Homo sapiens: one gene and its partners. The protein of the gene in region 3 interacts with the protein of the main gene of each other region in a pairwise test. Each region holds a gene or a part of one and is shown on either strand. Other genes may lie near its edges. The genes, in order: TMEM59L, NAALADL2, ITM2B and PROM1.

Region 1 (8,988 bases), on a different chromosome or scaffold from region 3:
GGAATGAAGCCACCACAAAAGAAAGCAGAGTCAAGGCATGGAGTGAGACACTGAGCCCCTGGATCCAGCTGTGCCTGAAGCTCGCCCACTGTGGACTTTGCATCTCATGAGCTAAGAGCCAATGCATCCCATCTTCTTACCCTGCCCACCCATCTGCCACTCTGGCGTGGCCCCTGTCAGAGGTCTCACCTGAAACACCACCACTTTCCCATTGTCAGTCTGCAAGTAGTATGTCCAGGTGGAGGAGACAAATCCCTGGGCTGAGTTGACAAGGTCATTGCAGAGGGTGGAAAACAAGTCCAAGAGGGAGAGGGCCCCACTTGGAGCCTCCAGGACCTTTCTCTGGTGAAAAAAGGTCCAAGACACAAAGATGGCACCGAAATAGGGCATTAACCAATGAATGGGAGGGGGCAGGATGTGGTGGCTCACGCCTGTAATCCCAACACTTTGGAAGGCTGAGGCAGGCCGATCACTTGAGGCCAGAAGTTTGAGACCAGCCTGGACAACATCGTGAAACCCTGTCTCTACTAAAAATACAAAAATTAGCCAGGCATGATGGCGCACGCCTGGAATCTCAGCTACTCCAGAGGCTGAGGCAGGAGATTTGCTTGAACCCAGGAGGCAGAGGTTGCAGTGAGCCAAGATCACACCACTGAACTCTAGCCTGGGTGAAAGAGTGAGACTCCATCTCAAATAAATAAATGAATAAATAAACTAACAGGAGAGGAGCTAGGAGAATTCACTTGGATTGGATGTGGCTAAGTGATTTGGGCCAATAGGACTTCTTATAGTGAACACAGATCTCAGCGTGGCAGTTGGCTTCCTGTGTACCCTTAGGGAAGTGGATTGTGCTCTCTGAGCCCTAAAATGGGTATCGTTCTCTTCCTTCATGGAGTAGCCATGAAATTTCAACTAGAGGATGCCTGCCAGGTGCCTGGCACGGCACAGGCACTTAATGCGTAGTAGTCCCTATTACTAAAAATATCATCATCCTCATTATTCTTATTTTGACAGCGTCAAGACGGAGGTCTGATGGCCGGCCATGGTGGCTCATGCCTGTAATCCCAGCACTTTGGGAGGCCGACGTGGGAAGATCACTTGAGGTCAGGAGTTCAAGATCAGCCTGGCCAACATGATGAAACCCTGTCTCTCCTAAAAATACAAAAATTAGCCGATTGTAGTGGGGGGTGCCTGTAATCTCACCTACAAAGGAGGCTGAGGCAGGAGAACCACTTGAACCCGGGAGGCGGAGGCTGCAGTGAGCCAAGATTGTACCACTGCACTCCAGGCTAGGCAACAGAGCAAGACTTCATCTCAAAAAATAAATAAATAAATAAGAGGGAGCTCTGAATTGGAAGGGCTGACAGTGCAGTGAGCTTTTCTGAACAGCAGTGAAAGCTGGGAAGGGGTGGAGGAAAATGGGGGAAGTGGGGAAAGGGCTTTCTGGGGAGTCCCAGCCCCTAGGTCTCTGGCTATGCTACATGATTTTCTGTGCCTCAGTTTCCCCATGATGCAGCATTGCTTGGACTACAATAGATGAACCGTTATTATTTCTCCCATAAGGCAGTGTGTGCGTGCTTGCGAGGCAAGCCTGCTCTACCCTGAGCCGCAGTTCTGAGCCCCTCCAGGTGACAGTGACCACCAGCTCATCACAGGGGAAGGGCTTAGACCAGCACCTGGCAGCTCTGGGGGCGCCTAAGAGGAGTGAGGTGAGGAGTGGCCACAGCTCTGGTGGCTTCAAATCTCGCCCCTTGCACAGCCCTGTGTATGACCTGGGAGGTTGCCCCCTGGGCACTAAATGGGGGTGACATTGTCCTTTGTGCCTCCAAGTGACACAAAAACATTTGGGACAGGTTGAAGTCAGGCCCGAACCAGGACAGATGTTTGATAAATGATGGCTGTTTTCTGCCACTTATTCCTGAAAAGGTGGTGGGGCATGGGGGGCGTTGTTGCATGTAACTAAGGCTGGAGACATGACGGGGCTGGATGGAGGTTGCCCTGCAGGCCTGGTATAGAACGCAGAGTCTGGCAGAGCCTCTGCACGTGAATGAAGATTTCCCACGGGGTGAAGAGGGTGGGGGTATTGGGAAAAGGGACCCCAGGCCGCAGTGGGAGGCCCACCTTCTGCTCCGGCTCAGGCTCCGCGGGCTGGCTCCAGCAGCCGTGGCTACAGGCCTGCTGCTCTGCCTCCTTCACATAGGCTTCCACGCAGGCTGTGGGAGGTGGGAGCGGGTGACTGGGGACGGCCCTTCCCAGGCCACCTCTCCCCACGCTGGCCCACCCTGCCGGCGGGCCCTCACCTGCTTCACACTCAGTTTGGGTGGCATTGGGCTTGGAGCTTCTGGCCACAAATCGGCAGATGGAGAAGAGGCGGCAGCCACGCTCGCAAGCGCTGATCAGAACGGCTCTGTCATAGGGAGACTCGGAGGCGCCCTCCAGCCCCGCCTGGGGGAGGGGAGGACAGGGGGCTCAGGCCATGGGGAGGGGCAGGAGGAGGGTGGGGGGACCGGAGCATTCAGCAGAGGCAGGGAAAGGCTTCCCCGCTCCCCACGACATCTAGCCAGATGGAGATGAAGTTGGGAGAGGCTACAAATATTAGTGGGGGCTCTTAGCTCTGAGGAGGGAGATGGGGAGGGAGCTTGAGAAGAGAAATGGACAGTGAAGGTGGAGAGAAATGAGCCTTCCCCCCACTAGGTTCCAGGGAGGAGGGGAGACATGGAGAAGGATTCTCAGACCTGGAGGAGGAGGGGGAGGCTCAGAGGAGGGGGTTTTGGTCACACGCAGATCAGGCTTGAATCCTGGGGAGTGGTGGTATGAGTAGGGGCTGGTAGCTCTGAGTGGGGAGGGAACACGATGTGGAGGAGGAGGAATGAGGTGGGGGGACCATCAGGCCTGAGGGAGCTGGGGGTTGGGTGCTAGAGGGTCCTTACCCAGCAGAGTGCGGAAGGAGCCCGGGAGGTGGTATCGGCCCCTTATCGCAAGGACCTGCATCCCCAAGCACTCCCCCATCAGAGGGAACCCCAGCCCGTCAACTACTGGAGAGATCTCCCCATTCCCGACCCCCACCTCCCCACGGACACCCCCACCAAAGTCTCCTGCTGTCATCCAAGAGAAGCCCATCCCAACGCCTCCTCCTTCGGAGAGATCCCGCGTCCCCCGCTGGCACCTGGCACCGCACGCGCCTCACCTGCGAGGGCTGCGGGCCGAGGTCGCGGTCGCGGCACCGCAGCTGGCAGTTCTGCGTGTCCCCGAGCTGGGGGGCGAAGGGATCGCGGGCGGACGGCGCGGAGGCGGCGGGCGGCGACGCCAACAGCAGCAGCAGCAGCAGCGGCGGTGGCATCAGCGCCACCGCAGCCATGGCCGGGCGGAACGCGGGGGGCGCGGGGGACTCCAGCTCAGGCCGGGCACGGAGGATGCAGCGGCTGCGGCGGGGACCGGGGCGCTGACGTCACCCGAGCGAGGCAGCCTGGGAAGCGGGGGGTGGGAGATGCGGAGAGCGGGCGGGGTAGCTGCGCTGCGGCACCCGAGGCGTGCGGGTCGGGCGGGGCAGGTGCATCGCGGCCCCCACCGTCTATCCCATCGCGGGGGTCCCAGGACACCTCCCTGGTGCCCACGGGCGGGGGATCTCTGCTGGCGCTTGGGGCCAAAAGGAAATATATAGGGGGATGGGATGGAGGGGACTATTCCCCAGGGGTGTCGAGGAGAGCGGAGAGCTTGGCGGAGGAGGCGACGTGTGAGCCGACCACGCGGGAGAGAGGAGAAAGGGGTGTCCAGGCTACAAGGATCAGCGAGGATCCTGAGAGAAAGAGCTTGTTGCAGGAGGAGGGAGGGCGATGGGGCTGGAGTCCAACCAGGGAACGGAGAGGGAGGAAGGTGAGAGCCGCAGGACCCGGCAGCTGAGTCCTGGCATCTTCTCTTTTGACACCCAGGTTAGAAAGGAGACAACTTGCGCGCAGTTTGCCTCCTCCGGGAAGCCCTCTGAGCCCCTCCCTTGCTCCTTCAGCCTCGCCTCCCTCTGGCCCAGCCCTGATCCACTGACCTAGGGAATCTGGCCCTGTCTCCCCAAGGCTGGAGACCCCTGGGCTGGGGCTTAGTGGGAGGGGACACAGAGGTATGCTCAGGAGCAAGGGGAGGGGGTGATGCTGACATGTCTAATTCTCATGGGAAAACGGGGCAAATAGCGACACTTCTGACTTCCATAACCATCACACCCCAGGGCGATGGACTGTAGCCCCAGGAGCCGAATCTCGGTTAGAGGGTACCCCCAGCTTCCTCTCCGCCAGATAAGGGAGTGGGGACGCCCCTCTAAACCCGGATCCTCTGCAAAGATGCCCCCGCTTTCGCTGGCATGCCTGGCGCAGGTGCCTGCAGCGCCGCGCAGCAGCCCGCAGGTCCCCCACCTACGCTCCGCCCCCGCAGACGGGGCGGCAGCCTCGCAGGGTCTGCGGGTTAGAGGGCGGCTCAGGTTTCGGCCTGGGAAGAGGGTGTCCCGGGTGGGGGCCCGGCGCACCCCCTACTCTGGCCTGCGGCCGCGCTTTCATCTCAGCGGCCCCCGGCCGGCCCCCACGTGGCTTAATCAGGCGCGGCTGTGCCTGGCGGACCCCGAACATCTGGATCCCGGTGCGGCCCCTCCCCCGCCCCGCCCCGCCCCTCCCCTCCCCTCCCATGCTAGGCCGCTGCGACCCGGCGGCGAGGGCCTCCAGCCCGCAGTTTGCGCCAGAATCCAGCAGGAGAATTCCGCTTCTAACCCACCCGCGCGCCAGGCCCGCACCTTGGGAAACAGCCCTGTGCGTTATGACCAATACTGTCCCCCATTTCACAGGTGGGAAACTTAGGCTCCGGGACGCGTTGGCAAAGTCAGGATTCAAGCCCACACATGCTAATTCCAGAGGCCCGCGCGCGCCTAACCCCTCCACAATTACTGTCTTTCATTCATTCCAACGAAACACTTTTTCTTGCAACAACCGTATAAGACAGGTACCGGTAGCGTTGCCCTTTTATATGGGTGAGGAAACTGATGCTCAGACTGCAAAGTGGTTCTGTCCAGGTGACAGGGAGAGAAGCAAAGAAAAGCCGGCAGAGCCCTGCCAATGATGGGAGGTGACCTTTGGGCATTGCTTAAAACGCATCAGGGAGGAGGGACACCCCGCGCCCTTTTGCAGAAGGAGAAACTGAGGCTGGAGGAGTGGGTCGATCACCCAGGTCGCCTGAGGGGAGAAGGGAAAGAGGCTGATTGCCGCACACCCAGCCCCCTTTCCGCTGCACTAGGCCGCTGGGGGGGTGAGCGGAAAGAGGACTTGACCCCGGCCCCCAAGGTGAGCCCCCGCGCCCCTCCTGCTGTTCCCGGGGGAGCCGGTCCAGGTGAGGGGCGGGAGGGCCGGCGGGCGGCCAGGGTCGGGTTTCAGGAAATCCGCCGACATTCCTTCGGGGCTTAAGAGGGAAAGTTGACTCGGCGCCGCCCTCGCCCCCCCCCCCACTTCCTACCCCCCGGGGCGGCCTGGCTGGGGGCGGCAGGCGGGGGGCGCTGAGGCCGGCCTGGGCGTGAATCAGCGGCAGGCCAGGCGTCCGGGAAGCCACAGCAGCCGAGGTCAAGGCGGGCAGCGGACAAGCACCCTTTGTCCCTTGCCGCCCTCACCACGACCCTGCTGACCCCCACCTCCAAGCAGGGTACAGGCCAGGGAGGAGGCAGAGCACCATGGCGCCGGTGGTGGTTGCTGAGGGTTGTTGGGGGAGGACGGAGGGATGTGGCTGTCCCCCTAAAGCAGCTGGTGCCTCCTGGGACCCAGACTTCAGAGGCTTCTCAGGGTACAGACGGGCAGGGAAACTGGCCTCCCTGGGGCAGGCCTGCAACTTCCCAGGCAGGTCCCCTAGGCAGGTCTGCAACTCCCCAGGTCCCGCCTCCAGTGCCTGAAGTCCAGTGTGCATTACACTGAGCACCCAGGCATTGCTTCTCCCCAGGCTCAGCCTCCAGGGCAGAAATTATAAAGCCTAGGTACACACGGGCCCCACTTTCCTGTGCCACAGACCCTGAACCAGGTGTCCAGACCCTCACTGCCCCTTAATTCCTGAAAGCACCTGCCTGGAACACCAGGTAGCTAATCCCATACTGGGGAGCCCTGAGCACGGGGCTTTCAGAATGGGAGAGACAGCTCTCAGCCTTCCTCACTCCCAGTGGTTGTGGGTCCCCACAGGACCCTGAAGGTGCCATTTCCACTGCCCCCTCCCTGGTGCACCCTCAGTGCCCTGGAATCACGAGGGAGCTGGGGATGGAGGCCCCCCCCCCAACCTAATACCTCTCATCCAGAGGTGACCTTGGAGTGGAGGGTGCAGGACTAAGGAGGGGTCCCTCCCCCAGCCCAAGGGGAGGCCCTCCCTCTGCCCAAGGGGAGGCCCTCCCTCCTTCTGCCCCTTACACATTCCCAGCCAACTTCAAGGACTTGGGTCAATATTTGCCAGAAGTTCCATTGACGCTAGCTCCCTTTTGTCCTCAAGGAGATAATGGAACTGGGGAGTAAAGGGTTAAACTTCTGGGGGCCCTAAGGGCCGGGAAGGATGCACTCTGGGGTCAATTCCCTTTCCCTGAAGTCAAAGGTGTGGGGTAAAGATCACCCAAGGGCAGAAGTCACACTCCAGGGTGGGGCTGGGCAGGATTGGAAAATGGTCCTTCCCTTCTGTTGGTAAGAACAAGAGAGGGATGTCTACTGGCTAGGGTCACACAGCAAGACACAGAGTGTGGGCCAGGCTAGGACCCCAGGCAGCATGACTTGCTAGGACTGAGTTTTCTTGCTACTTGGAGGGAGTAAGAGTTCTCCATCCTTTACTTTTACAAATATTTAGTGAGTGCTTCGCTTTCAGCCCTCACTGGGCCCACCACTGGGGTCCAAAGGGGCTGAGGCTGCCCACAGTCTAAAGAAAATCAGTTGCACAAGAAATGAAATGGTTGGAAGAGTTGTGTTTCAAAAACAATAAAACAAAGTGAAGGAGAGGGAGAGTGCTGGGGGAAGGGTGGAGGGCCTCTCTGAGGAGGTGGCACTAATCCTGTGAAGTGATGGAAGAGAAAGGGCCAACTGGGGAAGATGTGGGGAACAGCATTCCAGCAGAGGGAACAGCCAACACGCAGAGGCCCTTCTATAGTAACAAGCCTGGTATGTTTTGGGAAACAGGGCTCCAGTGGCTGGGGCGGAATGAGGGAGAGGAGGGGGAAGAGGAGAGGGAAGAAGAGGAGGGGAGAGGATGGCGAGAGGGTGGCAGGACAAAGATCTGCTTTTTCTTCTTTTAAAAGCTCCCTCTGCCTGGTGTGCCGAGAAAGGCAGAAGGGTTATCAGGGAGGCCCTGGAGGAGGCCGGGAAGCATCCCTGAGGGAGACCGTGGGGCCTGGATCTGAATGGGGTGGGAAAAAGGGGTCAGCATCTCAGAATGGAGATGTGTTTTAGAATCAGAGCCAACAGGATTTGCTGATGAATTGGACATGAGGGATGAGCAAAGGAGAGAGTTGTCACGTGCGCTTCCAGGTCTCTGGCCTGAGCACCTGGATGGATGGGAGAGCCCTTTCCCAAAACCAAAATGACTGGAAGAGAAGCAGAAATGGAGGGAGGAAAAAATCAAGGTTTTGCTCCAGAAGCCTGAAGTCCTCCCAGGAGGGAGTGAGGCGTCTCTATCCACACAGAGAGCATCTGCAGACAGGAGCCATGGGGGAGTAGTGGTGAGTATCCTAAAAACTCAATTCCAGCCAAGGACTGCCACCTCCACTTAACCCTCTGGGTCCCCTGGCAGGTGGGACTATGGCTCCATGTTTCAGAGGGGACAAGCAGGGCTGGGGGTCACCTCTGCTCCAGGATATCCTCCAGTGCTGTGCTAAGGGCTTGGATTGTAGAGACTTCTGCTGCCCTGCGTCTTCCCACAGAAGCTCCTAGACTGGGTGGTGCCCACTGTGCAGAGGAAGAAACTGAGGCACAAAAGGCCTGGTTTCCCGAAGTAAATGGCAGCGTCTCTCCTTGTCTGTCTTCTCCATCCAGAATTCAGATGGAGCAGGGGCGCCCTGGGCCCCTATAGGCTCCCATCCCCCAATCTTGTTTTTTGACAGTCTGGAGTCTGAACTGGAGATTTAAGTAGGAGAGGGTGGGGCTTCAGTCTTGGGCAGACAAATGGGGGCTCCTGAGCCCCCCTCAGACACTTTTACCCCCTTGGCTGGTTGGGGACCAGGAGAGAGAATCCAGGCCTCTAAGGGACTCCTGGAAAAGGGGACTTGGAGCCGTTCCCTTCCCTGGGCGCTGCAGCTGGGGGCGGGGCTGCGACCAAAAGTGGGTAATTGCACCCCCCAACTCTCATTTCAGGCACCCCCATCCGCAGCAGCCTTGGAGGCCAGGAACCCTTTATTCCTGGGCGCCCGCATCGGGTGGGGACCGGGAGGAGGGAGATGAGACGCCCGGACCGGGAGGGGTCCCGAAACTCGAGCAATGGCCAAAAATAATAACACGGAGAAGGCTCTTTGCGCAAAAGAAGGAAGACAAACTATGCGTCGCTCCGGGCAGCCGGCGTTACCTGGAGTCGGCGGGCGGTGGCCGCCGAAGCGATTACTCACCGCGTGGCGCACCCCACCCGCGGGCCGCTGAGTGGATTTTTCCGTGGCGGGGTGTGAATAGGTCCCGGGGAAAGAGCTTCTTACCGCTCTCCTCCTGGGAATCCCTCTTACTGCGGTGCGGGACCCAGTTCCCGCGCAGGCCTGGGTCCCGGCTCCCACAGGGGACTACATCTCCCCGTCTGCCCACGCAGGAGCTCCCTCCCGAGGCCCCCGGGGCGCCCAGAGCAACCTCAAACCCATCCCGCGCGCGAAGGGGACAGCGCAGCCAGGGCGAAGGCGAGGGACTCCGTGCCTTCCTGCTTTTTCTCCTTTCTTCCAGCAAAGCCTGGGGCCGAGGCTACTCGCGGAGAATCGAAAAGAGGCAGGATGAGGTGGGAGGGCTGGAACCCGCGCGCCGAGGGCGTGGG
Region 2 (4,937 bases), on a different chromosome or scaffold from region 3:
TGGATTTTAATATTTTGAATATATATATACACATCCATGAGTAATACATAACTTTATATGTTGTTTTAATATTACCTCCTCTGTGTGTGTCTATATACACACTATATATATATATATATATATATATATATATATATATATATATATTCCTGCAGATTTTTAAAAGTTTTTTATAGCTATGTAGTTGTGTGTATATAGTAGTATAATAACTGTCACAAGTTGTTAATTGCCCTAACCATTAGTTTTATCATCAATCAAATGGGACAAAATGATATAACACCTATCTCATAGGCTTTTTTAAAGATTAAAAGATTTCATCCAAGTGATGCTTGGCAACCAGAGTCTGACACAGTGCTATGCCCGTACCAAATGCAGGCTATTGTATAGCAGAGATGTTAGAGAAAGAGCACTGTTCTTTAGAGAGTCTTAAGGAAGGTCCAGTGGGACTGGCATGTGGCCTGAACATATGGCACCTTTAAACCGTCTCTGCTCTGCCAATATGTTTGCAATAAACTGTACTATCTATGGATATTGCTACTAGTTAAACTGAAGTGTTGTATCCTATTTGACTGTAAAGCTCCAAAAGTAAAATTGTGCTAATCTGTGCTAATCATCTTTGTATCACTAGTGCCTAATACAGTGCCTGGACTAGAAGAGTCTTTTAGCAAATATTTCCTGAATGAATAAATGAATGAAATCTATTACACTCACCATGCAAACAGAAAATTCTTTTCTATGTGAAAAATAACTGAGAGCATTTTTTAGAGCAAATTTGAGAAAACAAAACTGTTTAACATTGCAGTTGATACAGGTACTGTTACTTGATGGAACTTGTCACAAACTGCAAATCTAACTAAATGTTCAAGAAAAGAATGGAAGGCAAGGACAAAAAAAGATGATAAAATATTATAGAATTTTCCCTAAACAAGTGAACACCTGTTTGGCTGTCATATATATTATGTAAAAATAATTCATTAATAAAATAGAGTAATAACTAATTCATGTGCACACATAAAATACTGTATATTTTGTCATAAAAACACAGTATAGCAATGTTTTTACCTGTATTTAATAATTTCAAAATGGGTGTTTTAAACATTAACATTTCACGTACAAACTCATGAAAATTATGATTCAGAACACGTTTGTTAAATGGTGCCTTCATTTCCTAGTACTATGTTTTCAATAATGTGCAAATATTTAAACAACTTAAATATAAAATATTCACTTATATTTTTAATGGATGTGGTATCTCAATCCATTTGTGTCACTCCAGATCACAACATAATTTCTTAAGTAAGATGCATATTGAGTCATGTAAGTAACACATAAAAAGTTATAAAATAAATTGTGATCACACTTGGGCTAAATATAGAATGCACTAAATATCTGATGGGCATCCACACATTATAGAAATTAGACATTCAACCCTATATAGTAATTTAAAAACTACCGACAAATGCCTCTAAATCAATATCATTAAAAATCAGTTAACAACAACGACAATGACAATGAAATCTCTGTACAATGAAAAGATTTCTGAATCCAGATGATAATCAAATCATTTTGAACAAGGCTAAACACCACAACAGTTCAACATAATTTAGTAATTGGGACACCTCTTGAGAGATATGTGTTTTTAATCAAAGCAAATTTATTTGGAAAAATTTTCCTCCAAATTTTACCCTGGGTTAATTTATAAATTTTCTCCTGCTCATCCCTATTCTTCATTTTAAGGCTGTGTTTTAAATGTTATACCACTGAGATTTTACTTCTAAAATCTTACATATCTAAATGCTGCTACATTGAATACATGATTAAAGTATTAAATGCATGTGTCCCATATTAACATTCCAAATACATATAAAACTACTATCAACAGCATGTGACTTTCTTTTCCTTTTTTTGAGATAGGTTCTGTTACACAGGCTGGACTACAGTGGCATGATTTTAGCTCACTGCAGCTTCAAACTTTTGGGCCCAAATGATTCTTCCGCCTCAGCCTCCCTAGTAGCTGGACTACAAAGGTGCACACCAACATGCCTAGCTACTTTTTCTTTTCTTTTTTTTTTTTTTTTTTTTTTTTTTTTAAGAGAGACAGGGTCTCACTTTGTTGCCCAGGCTATTTTCTGGATGTCTATTAAAAAAAAATTAGTCCTGCACAGTGTTCTAGAAAGGGTTTTTCTTTTCAGAATATCCATATTCTCCAAGTAGCAAGTTAGAATATAAGGAATATTTGCCATTAAACCTTTCTGTTAGAAATGTAAACATGAAATTGCCTAATATAGACCTATCTCAGATGCTAAATAGAATTGTTTATAACACCTTTGGAATATAATTATGTGAGCTACACTTAACCATCTGGCATTTTGCTTCCTGCGGACAATTTGCAATAGCATAGAAAAATATTTTGTTTGTGTATTTCTTATCAAACAGATATGCTAAAGTTCTGTTTAGAGAGTAATAGCATTTTATTCTAACTTTTAAAATAAGGTAGTCCATTTGCAGCAGCTTGATATATAAGTAAACAAAAATTTTTAATATTAATAAAACACTAGCACATACACTGAAAGCATCTAAGAAATTCAAAATATAAAACACTTACCAAGTAATGACCATATGAGTGGTAACATATTGAATAAAGGCCCTTTGAAGAAGTTGGAGAGTTATGATTACTGAGCAGGCTAGATAATTAAATAATTACACATTTTGATTGAAAAATATATGTAGTTCATTAAAATAGGGACTCTAACTCCACTTCTCTAGCTAAGCTTCTATTCAGATGCCACGTTTGTACTTTAATTAGAACAAAAGACCGACATTAACTTCAATGCAACATAATAATTCATAATAATGATTGTATATTAATCTCTTGAGCTTGCAGGAATATAGCACATGACATATGGCATGATACAGGCACCTGTGTGATCCTTTGGGGACTTAGGTGGTGCATATTAATTAGCCCCTGGAAAATAAAATCTGTTTCCTTCTGAGAAAAGCTACCTCAGTGCTTATTGGCTTAAGCCATCAAAGAAATTAGATGAAATACTGTTAGGCTGGGTCTGCACTCATTAAAGCTTTGTCTAGATGTAAGCACTGAATCAACTGCCTCTGAGTTAAGTCTTGACTGAATGGTGCATAAGAAATCAGAGTAATCATGCATTTCTTTGGCCTTGATGATTGGATTTTGGCATTTAAAAAATCCATCAAAATTACCATTTTGGTTACAGAAAATTATGTAATTGTATAATTCAAACAAAATAATGTAACCAGAAACACTAAAATTTGAAGCCACTTCATTTTCCTAAATGCTGCTTGAAACTGCCTCAATTTAACCCTTTTATTTGTAAATTCAGATTCAACCCGAATATGAGATTATAAATGGCTTAAGAAATATGTCATCTTGCAATAATCAGGGTAACAAGATTCTTGACGGTCCCAGGTCTGCTAAAGGCACTTCAGTGTGTATATCTTTGTCAGGCAATGGAACGATATTATGAAACTAAAACTCTGGCTGATTAACAGATCATTTAAATTGAGACTGATAGATCTTAAAATTACTTCTCAGGGGGAAAAAGTTACAATGCTAGAGTGTACCTAGAAAACAGAAACTTGAGTAGACATGGTAATGACCAGAAAAGGCTATCTTTATACATTTCTTTTGCTACGCTTCAAATTCATGTCACCTAAAAGTTGTGAAGTGCACAAAACAAATCTACTTAACTGAAAATTATTTTCAATGAATGGGATGTTTAGAACTCTGTGAGGGTTTTTAAGGTCTTTTCGAATAGCAAATTCTAATGAGGCTTTTTTAAGTTGGCAATTTAAACTCATACAAGAAATAAAAACTCACCAGTGTGGCTGGGCAGAATATATATATTTTCTCAAATATTGTTTGTTTGTTTTTTCCCTGCACTGTATCCATGGTCCCATGATGAAACTGTTATATTGCTGATATATTTATTGGAATATGTGGGCCAACTTCCTTTCCACTCAACATATGGATTGGTAGTTTAAAATAATTCCTTTCTATTAAGCAAATGTGTGGCTAAGGCACATTTAAATAGCCCATTAAACCAATGAGATGACAATGTGTTACCCTCAGAGAAAGCTTAATTTTTGGAGTAATCAATTACACATATCACAGAATGTCTCATGAGAACATTTTTGGCTAGGTCTACCAATTTATCATACAAATAATTATAGATTTTCATTTGAGGCAAAGATGCTGATTCATCATTAGTAACATGGTCACAAATAATCATTTATTTTATTTTTGTTAACATCTGTCTTTCCTGTGGGGAAACTTACTATATGCTCTACGTTTATTTAATTTAAAAAGTCAATTGGTTATTCTGAATTTTTAAAAATAACATAAAACTGTTGTTCTAAATCACAGCACCTGCTTTTCTTTTTTTAGTGAAATTATATAAGCATTTAGAGAATGAAAGTGTAAGACTTGTGGTTTCTGGTCTCTTTTTACTGTTTGTAAGCCTACTCGTCATGATATTCCACAATGGTGCACTTGCCTTTTAATGCTCTTATAGATATCTTCAAACTTGCCTACATATATACGCCTTTGTTGGAGTGGGCTACCATCATCAGGAATGATGTCATTTGTTTCTTCAAACTCCTTTATTATACCAAAAAAGTGACAGACTCCACAGTCTGATCAGTTTTGGAGAAATATGTTAACATTTTCAATTATCTCACTTTCTAGAATCAAAATAGTCTGATTTTTTTTTTCGGCACTCAGTGTAAAGAACAAAGAACTGAATACAGTGGGCCCAGAAGAGAAATATGCCTCATCATTTTTATTAGCTTTGGAACTGTGGACAAGTCACTCAACCTAGTTTTCTCATTTTGAAATGGGTTGTTGTGGGAATTAAAAAAAAAAAAAAAAAAAAAAAAGGATACATGGGAAAAATTCTAAAACA
Region 3 (7,874 bases):
ATCTGAGCACTTTGGGAGGCTGAGGTGGGAGAATCTCTTGAGACTAGGAGTTTGAGACCAGGCTGGGCAACATAATGTAGGCAAGACCTCATCGCCACAGAAAATAAAAACATAAATATATATATTTTTTTAATTTAAAAATTTGGCTGGGCGCAGTGGCTTACGCCTGTAATCCCAGCACTTTGAGAGGTCGAGGCGAGTGGATCACAAGGTCAGGGATTCGAGACCAGCCTGGCCAATATGATGAAACCTCATCTCTACTAAAAATACAAAAATTAGCCGGGTGTAGTGGCGGGCACCTGTAGTCCCAGCTACTTGGGAGGCTGAGGCAGGAGAATTGCTTGAACCTGGGAGGCAGAGGTTGCAGTGAGCCAAGATCACGCCAGTGCACTCCAGCCTGGGCGACAGAGAGACTCCGTCTCAAAAAAAAAAAAAAATTAAAATTTAAAAATTACATTAAAATGAATCAATGAGAAGCAGCTACCATTTCCATTTTGTGTCTCTACTATCCAAACCCATTCGACCCCAAAACATGCAGATTTTTTAAAAAAGCAGTCCCTTTCTCAGAGTGTTGTCTCCAAGAGGCCTTTTACCTGTGAATCAGTCTGAATTTCAATATACTCTTTGCCATTTTTTTCCTCCATTGTGATTCAGCACTATCACATTTAAGGGATCCCTACCTAAGAGGTAATTTGAACTTCGGGTATTAAAATAAAGTAATAGATTTTGATTCTGTCTACTGAAGGCACAAGGCCCAGCTCACTTTCTTAACATGGCAACATCACTAGCACCAAATCTGAGGTGTACAGAACTTGCATTCCTGTGGCCATTCCCACTCCCAGATGAAATTCTGAAACTACAATTAAAGAAAAAAAAAAGGGAAAAAAGCCAAGTTTGGTTTTGTTTGTTATCAGTTGCCCCTGAAGTCTATATAACAGAGCCAATTTTTAAAAAGGAGGCTACATAGAACCATGTTAAATTTATTGAACAAAGTTCATTCAGTAAATATTTAGTGAGTTCCTAATACGTGCCAGGTGCTTTACTAGGTGCTGAGGATGTAACATGAACAAAAATAATAAAGTCTCTGTTTTTAGGGAATTTACATTTTATTTGTAGAGACAGACAATAAACAAATACAAACATAAATACATGTCAGATGGTGATAAGTACTATAGAGAAAAATAAGGTAGTGTGGTCATGGCCAGGAAGGCCCCTAAGAGGGCAGAATGGAAAAGTCTAAGAGCAGAGGCATAGATAAGGAGCAATGCTCATAGCCACAGGGATACCTGGGCATAAGCCTTCTTGACCAATGACCATATTGCTCACTGGGCAGCAATATGATAGGGTTAAAGGAAGGGAAGCAGTGCCCACGGTTCTGTGCTTCTCTGCCCTAGTGGACATCTCATTCCACATGGGCTATGGAAATGACCACCTTCTGGAAAAGCCTCTGTGAGAAAAGAAGGGAAGCCAAGGGAAAGCTTGTCTCCAATTACTCTCTCATTTATTCTTTGCATTGTTTATTGGCTGTTTGAGGAATCTTGAGCCAAGTCCTAGTCATTATTTTTGCCCATCCTCGAACTTGAAACAGTCTTCATGGTCTGGCCTGCATTGTGCTAATCTGTATTGTTAAGAATACACTACAGACAGACATTGCCAGCATTGAGGGTGGAGGTGAGACTCACTTTAGAAAAGGTGATCAGGCAATACCTAATGAAGTGACATTCCAGCAGACTTAACTGAAGGAAGGCAGTGAGCCTTGGGATACATGTGAGGGAAGGAGGGTGTGGAATTCCTGGCCCAGAAACAGCAAGTGCAAAGGCTCTGAAGCAGGATTGCCCTTGGTACGTTCAAAGGAAAGTGAGGCAGCTGTGTGGCTGTAGAGGAGTGAGAAAGGGGGAGAGTTACAGGAGGTGATGTAAGAAGAGCTTTGGAGGCCTAGATTACCTACAGGTAGGGCATTGTTCGACTTTTATTCTGAATAAAATGTTGGGATTTGAGCAGGGGAGTGACATGATGTGGCTTAGATTTAGAAAAGATCGCTCTAGCTACTCTGTTTAGAAGAGGCTCTAGGGGTCAAGTATGGAAGCAGGAAGATCAGTTGTGAGGCCATTGCACCAATCCAAGCAAGAGATGATAGCAGCTTTGACTACTATGTTAGCAGTAGAGACAGTGAGAAGCGGCTGAATTCTGGATAATCCGTATCTTGAAGGTAGAGCACACCAGATTGGCTGATGGATTTGATGTGAGGTTTATGAAAAAGAGAGGAATCTAGAATGACTTCCTATTTTTAGCCTGTGCAACTGGAAAAAAAAAGGAGCTGAGATGAGGAAACCATGGGAGGAAAATCAAGTTTGCCTTTGAACATGTTGTATCTGATAATGCCTATTGGACAAGCAAAATGGGAATTTGGAAAAGACAGCAACGTATGCCTTAAGGGGAATTTATATGAGAAGGTACCCAAGTTATACTAGTTTACTTGAAGGGATACATTACATATTTGGTTAGACCTTCCATTCTAAAACAATGAGAAACTGAAATTTATAAATGGTTCTTGGTGTTTGTTATGACTGTAAACCTAATAATACTTGGACTCCTGCATTGTCATGTATTTATTATGTATATTTTACCAATCTACCCTCAAAAAGATATGTTTACAATAAAGATGATTTTGCAATGAAATCATTAAACAAACACTTTTTAAAACATGAGCTATCTACAAAGACTTGTACATGCATGTTCATAGCAACTTTATTCATACTTCCCAACTTGGAAACAATGAAAATACCTACACAGAAAAAAATGATAAATTGTGGTATACACAAAAAATGGAATACTGGCAGGGCACAGTGCCTCACACTTGTAATCCTAGCACTTTGGGAGGCCGAGGAGGGTGGATTGCTTTGAGCCCAGGAGTTCGAGACCAGCCTGGACAACATGGCAAAACCCCATCTGTACTAAAAAAAATAACAAAAACAAACTAGGTATGGTGGCATACGCCTGTAGAGTCTTAGCTACTCGGGAGGCTGAGGTTAGAGGATGGCTTGAGCCTGGGAGACAGAAATTGCAGTGAGCCGAGATGATGCCACTGCACTCCAGCCTGAGTTGACAGAGCCAGACTCTGTCTCAAAAAAAAAAAAATAAAAAATAAATTTAAAAAGCACACACACACACACAAAACCAAAAGAAATGGACTACTACACAGCAACTGAAAAGAAAGAACTGCTGAGTCATGCAACAACATGGACAAATGTCAAAACGTTATACTGAGTTTTAAAAGCCAAACAAAAAGATTATATATGTACGATTCCATTCAAATAAAGTTCAAGAATAGCCAAAAACTGAACTATGGTCATAGAAATGAAAAAGTAGTTTTAGCAGAGGGAAGGAATATTTGCCGGAAAGGAGCACAATGGTATTTTCTGGGGCAATGAAAATGTTTTGATGATTGTTAACATGGACAAAGAAAAGTGTCAAAACTCACTGAGTTGAACACTTAAGATATATGCATTTCGTTGCATGTAAACTATCTATAAAACTCACAACAAAATATGAGCAAACTGAAGGGTTACTTCAAGCCCTACCGAAAGGGTGATATACAGAAAAACCTAGGCTGAAAGTAATTAATCTAAGCACCGAGTTTGGCTCTGAGTTTCCCAGCAACCAAGGCAAAAGGGAAGCAAATGAATTCTTTAGATGTACTACCTAATATTAACATGTATCCTATGTGAAAAAAATTTTCCTAACACTAAATTTTAAAATACTTAGATAAGAAGTACTAGATATGACATAATGCTTTTAACAGCACTTTACAAAAGCTGAAGAAACATTTCTGGCTCATTTTTATTTCTATCAATCCTCAACAAAAGTCAAGAGAATAATATCATGCCATGGTTATACAAAGACATTTCTATGGGGAGCTAAAGGAAGGCACTCATAATTTTTTAGAGTGTCAGCTAGCTGCAGGGCTAGAATCTAGGGACTCATTCCAGAGACATGAAGGATTCTCAAATTTCACAGGCTCATCTTCCTGGATGCCTCAGCAGTGTTTCTGACAGAACTTGGGTTATCAGATAATTAGGGGTTAAATAAAGTGTAATGTTCCCTGGAGTTGATTAAAACTAGATAAGTTGTAGCTGTTACACTAGTATTTGGCTAATTATGTTTTAAGAAATGTTCTAAGAACTTGCCGTATTCATACCCAAATGGAAAACTATTCCTGCATCTTAGTCTGAAGGCTTAATGGATATATTTATCCCTGACATTCTGAAAGCTCTTCTCTCTCCTTTCATGCTTCCCAGCAGGGGCATAATTGGCAAATCAAGAAGGGCAGTAATTTTTTGTGCAGGACTCCCGGACTTTTAAGACATTTAGCATCCTGCCTGGCCTCATCTACTAAATACAAATGGCATCCTCTAGTCCTGTGACAATCAAAAATCCCCCCTACATTTTAAAATGTAGTGCCAATCCCTTTTGATAATCACTGGGCCTTAAAAGAATGTTGGTATGTTTTAAATGTGGAAAACCATCTGGCCCAAAAATACTATCCTAGAAGAAGGTGGCATTATGGAAGAAGACATAATCTTGGCTTGAAACATTTGTGGATATATATACACTTCTGTCATATGAAAATCTTAATATGGCCCCCACAGAACATTTTACTTAAAATGAGGCTCTAACTTTGAACAACAAGCCCATCAAGATGAAATAGCCTCAAAGTATAACCCTTACTAGCTGAACTCCATTTCATGGAGTTAATCCATGAAATGTAGCTCATTCATTCAACAAACATTAATTTCCATCTGAATAATGAAGATTGTCTGCCCAAAAAAACCCCCTTTGGTTTTAGTGAAGTAGATACCGTATTTCCTTTTTTTCTAGCTATAGTTACCAGATGTTTATTCCTTCCTTCAGTGTCAAGAAAACCTATTATGTGCCAAATACTGAGGACACAGTATGAGCATTTTGCTAATAGTCTAGAGGAGGACTTCATGAAGACAGGTGATGAAGTATCATGAAAGGTATGAGAAATAGAGAGCTATGGTGGCATCTCTGAGGAAACTTTTAGTCTGAGATCTGAAAGATGAGTAAGAGTTAACTTTTCTTTGTGGAGGGCAGGGGGTAGAGTGGGGACAGAGACAACTGTTTCAGGCAGGGCTGCAAGCTTATATGAGGCCAAAACTAAAAGGCTAGGATGCAAACAGAGAAATGGTGAGAGAAGTCTAGTGAGGGCAGGATTTTAGGGCTTGAAAAAAGGATTTTCTCTTAAGTGCAGCAGGACACCATCACTGAATCTTATATTCAAGGCAACTCACTCAGACCCATGGGGATGAGATCTGAGGAGAAAGTCAGACAACTGGTTGGGAAATATAATACCCAGAATAAAAATGACAGTGGGCAAGACTAGGGTGGTACGGGAAGGAATCATTCATTCATTCAATAAATAAGAGCTGCAACTATGTGTCAGGTGCCCTACTAACGTATTGAGCAGTCTAGTGGTGGAAATCTATTAACCAAACAAGCAACAAGGACAAAATATAAAATATTAATTATATTCAAGTCACAAAAAAGAGACAGATGATGCTATGAGACTGAGAAACAAGAGAAGCCTTTCCTAATGGTTCAGGAAAATCTTCTCTTGAGGAAGGGTCACCTGAACTAAATTCTGAAGGTTGAGTGGAAGCTAACTGAAGGGTGTCGGGTGAGGAGATGGAAATAATCTTCAGGAAGTAAGAATAGCATTTACCAAGAAACAGTAAGTCAGGCAATGTGGTAGGACACTAGGAGCAAAGAGGGGTGTGATTAAGATGAAGCTGGAGAGTGGGTTGGGACTGGACTGTGCAGCATTAAGTATTTTGGTCTTTATCCTAAGAACCAGGGGAAGCCAGGAAAGTGTTTTAAGCTGGGGTGTGACAATGAAACCATCAAGTTCGTGTTTTGGAAAGATTGTTGTGGCTTACGGGTGGGTGTGGGGAAGCAGAGAGAACCACTAGAGCAGAACAGCAGGAAGCTGCTAGGAGGTGGAGGACACAGTGACTGTGAAGACTGTGGGGTTTCTGGCTTGGGTTTCTTAAATATCCTCCATTTGCGACGGGGATAAGACCACACTGTTTGGAAAGAAGAAGGCGTTTGCATCTGCTTAGTCACTAGGGCAAGAACTAGGTCATTTTGTGTCACACATTATTGTATCGCACGTTAAACTGTTGGGGAATGGGACTGAGGAAGGAGGATGGTAGAAGGGCGGGAACATTTACTTTTTACCTTCAAAAACTGTATTATTTGATATTTTTACAATGAAAATATAAACACAAATGCAAGCTTAAAAATCAGATACAGAAGTCCCATCAAATTATTTTAAGTGGGAGGAAGCTAGGATTATCTTGTTTTATACCACTTAGGTCTCAATTTTGACCCCTAAGCCCACTCCCACTCATCCTGCTTCTCAGAACCAATCTGCAATAGGTGGCTGGAAGATTAAAAGTGTGGAATCTACAACCCATACATGTGTGCTATCAGGAAATAATTTATGGCCTCAAAATTCAGTAAATATTTCAAAAAAAATCTTAAATTGTGCTTAATTTTTTCAGTAAGATAAAAGCCTAAAATGATCAATAGAGAGCTGAGACTAAATCATGCTTCTTCCTCAAAAAAGCATTAGCCACAAAGACTCAGAAAGAAGAACGCTAGCAATAACTTTGGACAAGATATTGAACGAACTGATGGCTGTGTAGCTTTGTGGAAATGAAGAAATGTTCTTTTTCTAAATAGATACACATGAAGTCCTTATCTAGGAACCTAAGTCCCAAAGAGTTAAACATGCAAAGATTAGTGTGCAATAGAGTAGGATTTATATAACTCTGGGCAACAAACTCTTTGCTAGGTGGAAGAGAAGATGTCTAGTAAACTACTAAATGTTCACTTAGCAGAATCTTAGAGATTCTGCCCATATTAATTCATAACCACATTCAAACATAGAATCTAGACCTTTTCTATTCAATAATCCATTTGCCTTTTCATTTGCATTATTAATCAGCCTTTAAGTTTTACACTCCTACTTCTATTATTCGAGATAAACAACATTTAGGACACTGTGTACATTTTTTTTTCTTGCTTCTCACTAATATGGGTGTGGAATCTAAAAAGGGATACAGGGAAAGCAGAAGTGAACAATTACACATTACAAAACAAGATCAGTGTTTGCTTGCTAACATATAGCAGTGATAGGTTTCAAAAAAGGCACTGTCAACAACTGTACAGAGCTGTATGAAGCATTTTCATGCCTATTATTTTAATTCTCAGCCACCTCTTAAGCCAGATTCTCCAGATTCTCACTCCTGCATCACAAAAGAGCAATCACGGCCAACAACTTGTCAAGATTTATATAGTCTCATCTTGACTTCTGTACTTTTTTTTTAAACCAATGCAATAGGGGCAGAATGTGTTGCAAAGCAGCAAACTAGAGCTATCTTAGATAAATAAATAAATACACACACACACACATATGATGGGGTGCATTATGGAACTTGCTATGGTTTGAATGTTTGTGTCCCCCCAGAATTCATGTTGAAATCCTTACCCCCAAGGTGACAGTATTAGGAAATGGGGCCTTTGAGAGGTGTTAGGTCATGAGAGTGGAACCCCCATGAATGGAACTAGTGTCCTTGTAAGAGGAACCCAGAGTCATCTGTGATATAAGGTCACAGAGAGAAGAGAGCTTTCTGTGAGGAAGGAGGACCTCATCAGACACTGAATCTGCAGGTGACTTGATCTTGAACTTTCCAGCTTCTGGAACTGTGAGAAACAAGCTTCTGTTGTTTAAAGCCACTCAGTCTATGGTATTTTGTTATAGTAGCCCGAATGGACTAAGACAGAACTCA
Region 4 (8,222 bases), on a different chromosome or scaffold from region 3:
CCTGCTTCACCCTCACAGCTTGACCCTGCATTTCTGCTTTGCTCCTGGCTGAGTTCAGAATTACAGAGGTGGCACCACCTCTTGGCTCCTAACTTCCAGTCAATTTGTTCCCCCTTCCCTCTATGTTCTGTTAGATTTCTGTTTTCAACCTTGTCTTGAGAAGCTTTATAACTTTATAACAACCTTATCCTTTTTCTGGAAGCTGCCTCAATCCTTTTGGGGACAATTGAGATACAAAATAAACATGTTAGCTAGCCCACAGTCTATCGTATTGACTAAATGGATGCCCAGAGCTCTTCCTTACGATGTAAACCCTCTGCTACACAGCTCCAGCCTATGATCTTCCTGAGCAGCCTCTAGGCCTCCCCTCTGTCCCTGGTGATCTGTGGAAAGGCATCTGGTGGCTATGTGGTTCGACTGAATGGGGTGGGTGGTGGAGGCTGGACATAGAGAGACGTCAATTCAGAATCAAGCAGGTTGGCTCTGGACTCCCCTAATGAAGGCTTCAGCCAAAGCTGGCGGCAGGGGCCACCAAGCACAGGACAAGAAAAGTAGTTGCAAGAAGAAGGAAGCATCCAGGAAGCAGGGCCTAGGGTCTGCGTGGTTGGGTCGGAGGCAGAATCCTTTTCACTCAGGCATGAAAGACCCTCCAGCAGACAGATGGACAAGTGAACGAGGGAGGTGGACAGACAGGGCAATAGGGATGAACTGTGCCAGAGAGCTACCTGACAATGCATCAGTGATACTCTGTGCCAGGTATTATGCCAGACAACAGGGACACAGCCTTGAATGCACTGGTGACTCATGGAGTGGAGAGTCTAGAGTGTGCTGGAGAGACAGGTCTTAATCAAAGAAACATATAAATATGTAATTGAAACAGCAATAACATCTCTAAAGGAAAAGCATAGAGTTCTACAGGAATGAGGAAAACGGAGCTCAGCCTAGTTTTGGGGATCAGAAAAGGCTTCCTGGAAAAAAGACATGTTTGAGCTAAGACCTGAAGGCGGAACAACAATAGTAGTGAATATTCATTGAGTGCTGATGTTCCAACAGCGTGAAGGGCTTCACATGTGACCTCTCACTGAATCATCAAAACAGCCCATGTAGGCGAGGAACTCAGAAAATTTCAGGAATTTTTCAAAGTCACAGAGTTCTGAAAATGTAGAAGTGGAATTTTCATTCAGAGTTGATGTTCTCCACCATTGTGTTACCAGACCTGGAGGAGTTAGGTCTTAAAGTGGGGAGTGGGTAGGTGGGAAGCGGAAGAGGAGAGAGAAAGAGAAAGGCGGCGTGTGCCCATCTCCAGTCCAGGCAGAAGAAACGGCATGTGCATGGGCCCTAAGGTGGGGAAATTGAGATTTATTTGATGAAGTGAAAGAAGATGAGTATGTCTGGAGCACAGAAAGAAAGGCGGGCAGGCAGAGAGCACACAGTGAGATCTGGAATGGGGAGGCTCAGCCATGCAGAGCCTAGTATGGGCTATGAGGAATCCTGATCTTTAGATAGCAATGGGAAGCCACTGAGGTGCTTTCAGCAGAGGGAGAGGATCCACTCACAGAGAGAGTCAGCATCTGTTGAGGAGGGAACAGAGCTGAGGATTAAGCCTGACTAACTGGAACTTACCATCCCAATAGTCACATTTCTAAGGGCTTTTTAATGACAAATGAAATTTGATGCAACTTTGGGGTTGTAAATGTAGTTGTACTGAGTATTCTTTTGAAGATGAGAAATCTGCACACCCGTGACTGTCTTTCTGATTATTCTGAACTAACAGGAGTTTTCTCCCTGCAGGTCTCCTGACTCATAAATATAATCCTAGTGAGGAAAGAAGACAACCGCCCAGAACTTTGACTTTTCTAGTCTATTAGCATCTCAATACACTGATCAAAATATTACATTTTAGGTTTTGGATTCTCTCAAGCAGAAAACAAATATTATAATGTATATCATAATCCAGAAAAACAACCAAAGATGATGGATTCATTGTGTCTTCTTTTGAAAGATGAAATCTTACCAAGGGGTCGATAATGTAGCTACACAGAAAGACATCAACAGCAGTATCTAGAGCGGTGGCCACAGGTTTGCACGATGCCACTTTCTCACTGATCTAGGGGGGTGGAAACACAGGGAAACTTTGAGCTGCATCCACAAAAACCCAAAGGAATGAGACGTGCCATTTACTTTTGACTTGGTGTCACAAAAAGGATCTCCATGTCCTCTAAGACAGGGGTCCCCAACTCCTGGGTCACAGATGGATACCAGCTAGTACCGGTCCACAGCCTGTTAGGAACTGGGCTCCACAGCAGGAAGTGAGGGGCGGGTGAGCAAGCAAAGCTTCACCTGTATTTACAGCTGCTCCTCATCTCTTATGTTACTGCCTGAGCTCCACCTCCTGTCAGAGCAGCAGCAGCATTAGATTCTCATAGGAGCATGAACCCTATTGTGGAACTGCACATGCGAGGAATCTCAATTGTGCTCCTTATGAGAATCTAATGCCTGATGATCTGTCACTGTCTCCCATTACTCCCACTGATTCTACACTGTGGTGAATTGCATAATTATTTCATTATATATTACAATGTATTAATAATAGAAATAAAGTGCACTATAAATGTAATGCCCTTGAATCATCCTGAAACTACCTCCACCCCCGGCCTGTGGAAAAACTGTCTTCCACTAAACCAGTCCCTGGTGCCAAAAAGGCTGGGGACTGCTGCTCTAAGACATGGAACTGACGGCTGATGTGCATGGATGAGTTCTGCATATACAGTTACAGTCGGCCCTCCATATCCCTGAATTCTGCATCCATGGATTCAACCAATCATAGATTAAAACATATTCAGAAAACAATGGATAGTTGTACCTTTACTGAACATGTACAGACTTTTTTTAATACAGTATACCAACTATTTACATAGCATGTACATTGTATTAGGTATTATAAGTAATCTAGAGAGATTTAAAGCACACAGGAGGATGTGCATAGGTTATGTGCAAATAACTATATCTTTTATATAAGGGACTTGAGCACCCAAGGATTTTGGTATCTGCAGGGGACTCTGGAACGAATAACCCATGGATACTGAGGGACAATTGTATATATTTTAAAGCAAGATCCTTATTCTCTCTGAGCCTCGGTTTCCAGTTTCCTCATTTGTTTTGGAACAGTGAGACCCAGCCTACAGGACTCTGAGAGAATTAAAAAGTTCTCGTGCCCAGCATAGTGTTTTAGTTCAAATTTGTTACCTGGCCCCTTTGTTACCTGAAAAAGGGGGTGGGAAGCAAATGGAAGAACTGCATATGGCAAAGGTGAGCAAAGGGGACCAGGAGGTGGCTGTCCTCTGACCTGGTGGGAAGCCCCAGAAGTCTTGGTCCTGCACATCAATGTCCTTTCACTTACTTCCTACCAAATTATGGGAAATTTAATTTTATTTCTTCCAGATTTTACCCTAGAAAATGGCTATCCTGAAACTTGACCCCCCTTAACATTCATAAAAGATAAACTACTTACAGAGAACTCGATCCACTGCAGATAATGTTCAAAATATCCTATTATTGTTCTCCCATACTTCTTAGTTTCCTGGAAAGAAACAAAAGATGAGTAGAAGCATTAAAATGATGACAGCATACTTAAACATTATAAATATTTAATCTGTAACATTCAAGTGCCCACTTATGGACACGCTTACTTTAAAAAAGAAGGCTCACCTCAATAATAACAGAGGAAGTATTGTTTGTGATGAAGTTCTGAGCAAAATCCAGAGAAGCTAGAATCCTAGTTACTCTCTCCTGAAAGACACAGCCACAGTTATCAGGGTATCAAGTCATAGAAAGTTTTAATTAGACAATTTGCATATTGATTCAAGTACTGTAACTCAGCTCTGCAACACCACGACCTGGACCTGCTAGTTAAGAGGAAGACAGAACCCACCCAGGCCCCTGAGGGCAGGGAAGGAGATGAGCTGAAAGTGAGCATTTACTCTAGCCCAGACACTGGGCTAGTCCTTGATAGGAATGGCCTTGCTGGACTTGCTGGAAACTCACAACGAGGCAGGAAGGAAGGTACTGTTTGTTAGGTTCCCTTCACAAATGAGGCAGCTCAGCCTCTTCACGGTCACCATGCTGGGGAAACATACGACAATGCTGGGATTTGCACCGAACTTTTTTTTTTTTCACTACAAAACCCATAGTCTTTGCACTACAACACAAGCAAAGACGAGTCCTCTGCCAACCCACATGGCAGCTTGGTGCAAATTGGAAATGGGGCCTTTTCTGCCCAGGGACCTCAGGGCACAGAGCCTGGCAACTCAGTCAATGGCCAGTTTCTGCCCTCGACTAACCCCCTTGGCTGGGCCCCTCATGAAAGGCCTTGCACCACTGCACACCCTCGCCCTGTTCACAGAGGTAGCAAAGCACCTGCACGTAGTCACTGGTGTGTTTCCAGGTTCCCCTGGCATGAGACACACACCTATGAAATGGCAACTGTGATCAGAGGCATAGCGAGGGTCCTGGAGCAGAGTAAATCTAAACATCTTCAAAGGAGCTGAGCCATGATGTTGGTCTCACTGAGAAAAGTGGAAGGAGGAACATTTAGTTTTATCCTGTGGGGCTGATACCCAAAACCTGTCATGTACAGACTATTCCGTTCAATGAAAAAATATCTTCTGAGTTGCCCATTGGTACTGTAGATACAAGATGAATACAACCCAGCCTTGCAGCTCTGTGTCTGCTGAGGGAATGCTTGCAGCCCACACATGGCCCCTGTGGTAGGTAGATTGCATTAGCTGTTCAGGATTATTGATATGCTCCTTGGATGGCTTCCCAGAGCGTGGAGTATACTTCCCCAGCCAGACGACGATGTGTGTGACCATGTGACTTGCTTTGGCCAATGGAACGCTGGTGAAGGGGCAGGGTGCCCATTCTGAGCTTAAAGGACAACCTGTGCCTCCACTCATCCCCTGAACTCCTGTCCTCCACTATGAGGACATGAGGTGCCCCAGACAGGAGCTGCTCCTTCAGGCCGGGTCTCTCAATGGGAAGATGTGTAGAGAAGCCTGCTGTCAAACCAGCAGGGAAAATGAACATTTATACTTAGAAGGCACTGAGGTTTGGGATTGTGTGTTAGGCAGCATTATCTCTGTGAAAGGGACCAATGTACCTTCCAAGCTTGCATCCTACACATCAAAACATAGATTTCACCTATGTATCTAATAGCCTGCTAAGATGAGGTCTGCACTTAGAGAAGTACTTGTAGAAAGGAAATAGTAGGAAAGCCCAATTTGCTATTTAAAATAGGTAGATAACTGAGGCTTTTTTTTTCAACTTAAAGTACCTACAAAAATCCACATTTCTAGCATTCTTTGTGTGGTATTTTATAACAAAACCCCATGACAGAAAACAAAGTAAACCCTTACCAACAATCCATTCCCTGTGCGTTGAAGTATCTTGACGCTTTGGTATAGAGTGCTCTGGCAAGAAACAGATAATATTTCCAAAATTATTACATGAAGCAGCAAGATCACATACCTTGTGTCCTCCCTTCCCACAAGATAGCCATCAAATCTGTCTTTACACTGTAATGGTTTCATTCTAGAAAAAATAACCAACACAATTAACAATGTGTACTTTCTTTTTTTTTTTTTTTTTGAGATGGAGTCTCGCTCTGTCACCCAGGCTGGAGTGCAGTGGCACGATCTCAGCTCACTGCAAGCTCCGCCTCCTGGGTTCACGCCATTCTCCTGCCTCAGCCTCCTGAGTAGCTGGGACTACAGGCGTCCTCCACCACGCCCGGCTAATTTTTTGTATTTTTAGTAGAGACGGGGTTTCACCGTGTTAGCCAAGATGGTCTCGATCTCCTGACCTGGTGATCCACCCGCCTCGGCCTCCCAAAGTGCTGGGATTACAGGTGTGAGCCACCGCGCCTGGCCAACAATGTGTACTTTCTATGCCTCTGGTGTAAGAAAACCTGAAGAAAACATTGGATACATATCCTAAAGCTGTGAAGAACAGCAAATCACATGTGAGGCATCCAAGAAATCCCTTTGAATTAGGTTTGATCAAAGTGGAAGGCATTATTTAAAGCAGAGCCTGCCCCGCAAGAGTGGTTAACCTGAATGGTTTAGACAGGAGGTTGACAAACTTTATCTGTAAAACACCAGAGTAAACACTTTAGGTTTTATCTGCCATAGTCCCAACTACTCAACTTTGTCCTTGTAATCAAAAGCAGCCACAGAGAGTTTGCAAATGAGTGGGTGTGGCCATATTCCAATACAATTTTATTTACAAAAACTGCTGGTAGGCTGAATTTAGCCTGCAGGCTGTAGTTTGCAGGGTCCCTAGTTTGCCAACCCCTGGTTTAGATCATAGGTCTCAGGTAGGAAGCACTCTGCCTATTTGTGGACAGGTTGCCCTAGCTCTGAAAAGGCCAAAGGGTCCTGTGTACTTGGGAAAAAAGCATTTAAAAAAATGCAAAACCAGCTTAAAATGTTAACAAATTTGTGTTAGGCATAAACCAGTTACAGAAAATTGTAAATAGCACTGGACACAAATTAAGAAAATTCAGTGACAGGACTTTGTGAATAATCTAATAAATTAGGAAATCGAGAGAGAAAAAAAGAGTATTGGAAATTAGTTCTGGGAAGTTTAGTGGTTGGGATGTTCGGATGTTTGGATGTTGGGGCTAAGTGGATTTACTTGCTTGTCCAAACCTGAGCAAGCTGATTCAGTAACCCAGTTTCCACACACTTCTCTCCTTGATGGCTACAAATACGGCCCACACACAAGCATAATATAATAATTCCTCCTCTTTACTGAGATCCTCTGAGGTCAGGTCCTTCATTTCCATGAACAGGTAAGAGCAAGGCAGTTATTGATCCCAACATTTTTAGATGAGGAAACTGAGAAGCTACAATAGTTTGGAGAGCCAGAAGCAGAATTTAAAACCAGGTCTGTCTAACTCCAAAGCCCACATTCTTTCTTTGTTAGAAACTGCCTTTATTGCATTAAGAAAAGAAGCCAGAAGGTGGTGAGAAGCAAATGGAAAGGATGGAAGAGAGGAGAGACGAAGCAACGCCCATCGAGACAGCAGACAGGGCTAAGTGGATCTACACAGAGAAGCACTTAACCTCACCTTCACATATTTCTAGACAAAGCTCGGAGAAAAAGAATCAAGTGAGTCCACAGCATTGTAGCTAAATGCGGGGCATAGGAGGGCCTGCTCACAGCAATGGAAACTAGAGCAAGGTGGAAGAGACAGCCACAGATTTTATCTAACTGTTCACACTCAAATGAAAAACGGAAGGGAATAAGCAGCAGAGGGAGGTGCAATTATTTTGTCTAAAGGCCAGCTCAACTTCTGGGGCTGAAGCCAGTCAGCTGGGACCTATGAGAGATGAGCATGTGTCGTGAGGCTAAATGAAAGCCAACTAGCTGCAGTAGATTTTGCTCAGGTCACAGTGAAATACAATACGTCGTTGACTGTTACCAGTGATTGTTCTATAGGAAGGACTCGTTGCTGGTGAATTGTTTTAATAGTTTGTGCATCTCTTTTCAGGGAGTTCCTCAAATTTCCTGGGGGCTACAAAAAGAATAAAAAACAAAGATCAATACCATCTTTCCAGACTCAAAGCACTCTCGCTATCCTCAGGGGCCCTGTGTAGCCAGGAGGGCTGCCATGACATAAGCATGCAATGATGGCTGTGAGTGGGCATGGGGGCTGGTGTGAGGGATAGTGCCAAGACACCCTCCTTCAAAGCACAGAACCATGGACTCTCAGCAATAACCCACACCCAAGAGCCCTTCCTGAGTGCCAGAGACTGTGTTCTCTCCACCTCACCATGATACAGCCACTCTCAGTTTCCCATTTTACAGGTGAGAAAACCAAGGACCCATAGAGAAATTTTTATTTAACCCACACTCAATGAATGTTTAATTTATTAATGAATAACAATCCTATAAGGTAGATACCATTACCCCATTTTACAGATGAGGAAACTAAGGCAGAAGGGAGAAATAACTTGCCTAAGCTCCTATACCGAGTCAAGACTTAGACCCAGGTCTTCTTCAAGAGCCCAGGTTCCTCGTCACCATGGCGTGCTGCTTCTTGGACGGGGCCAGTTAAGGCCAAGTAGTCACCAACCAGCAGAGGAGTTGAAAGGGGAAGCTTATGGGGCTGGGGTGGTACCTCTGCCTTCCCTCATCACTTACTATTGGTAACTCAAAGC

What was found.
Region 1: the proteins of ITM2B (region 3) and TMEM59L interact in binary tests that used the Homo sapiens proteins (3 or more experiments, as listed by UniProt).
Region 2: the proteins of ITM2B (region 3) and NAALADL2 interact in binary tests that used the Homo sapiens proteins (3 or more experiments, as listed by UniProt).
Region 4: the proteins of ITM2B (region 3) and PROM1 interact in a protein complementation assay, tested with the Homo sapiens proteins (one study listed by IntAct).

What each region holds. Positions count from the first base shown.
Region 1 is NC_000019.10:18,607,329-18,616,316, reverse strand, and holds the start of TMEM59L (transmembrane protein 59-like precursor), read right to left. Parts: upstream 3,448-8,988; 5' UTR 3,359-3,447; coding exon 3,188-3,358; intron 2,446-3,187; coding exon 2,301-2,445; intron 2,214-2,300; coding exon 2,122-2,213; intron 343-2,121; coding exon 190-342; intron 1-189. UniProt on the Homo sapiens protein: Modulates the O-glycosylation and complex N-glycosylation steps occurring during the Golgi maturation of APP. Inhibits APP transport to the cell surface and further shedding.
Region 2 is NC_000003.12:175,806,665-175,811,601, reverse strand, and holds the end of NAALADL2 (inactive N-acetylated-alpha-linked acidic dipeptidase-like protein 2), read right to left. Parts: 3' UTR 1,054-4,937; downstream 1-1,053. UniProt on the Homo sapiens protein: May be catalytically inactive.
Region 3 is NC_000013.11:48,263,571-48,271,444, reverse strand, and holds the end of ITM2B (integral membrane protein 2B), read right to left. Parts: 3' UTR 1,088-7,874; downstream 1-1,087. UniProt on the Homo sapiens protein: Plays a regulatory role in the processing of the amyloid-beta A4 precursor protein (APP) and acts as an inhibitor of the amyloid-beta peptide aggregation and fibrils deposition. Plays a role in the induction of neurite outgrowth.
Region 4 is NC_000004.12:15,982,249-15,990,470, forward strand, and holds part of PROM1 (prominin-1 isoform 1 precursor), read right to left. Parts: intron 7,577-8,222; coding exon 7,484-7,576; intron 5,469-7,483; coding exon 5,415-5,468; intron 3,790-5,414; coding exon 3,709-3,789; intron 3,581-3,708; coding exon 3,512-3,580; intron 2,108-3,511; coding exon 2,015-2,107; intron 1-2,014. UniProt on the Homo sapiens protein: May play a role in cell differentiation, proliferation and apoptosis. Binds cholesterol in cholesterol-containing plasma membrane microdomains and may play a role in the organization of the apical plasma membrane in epithelial cells.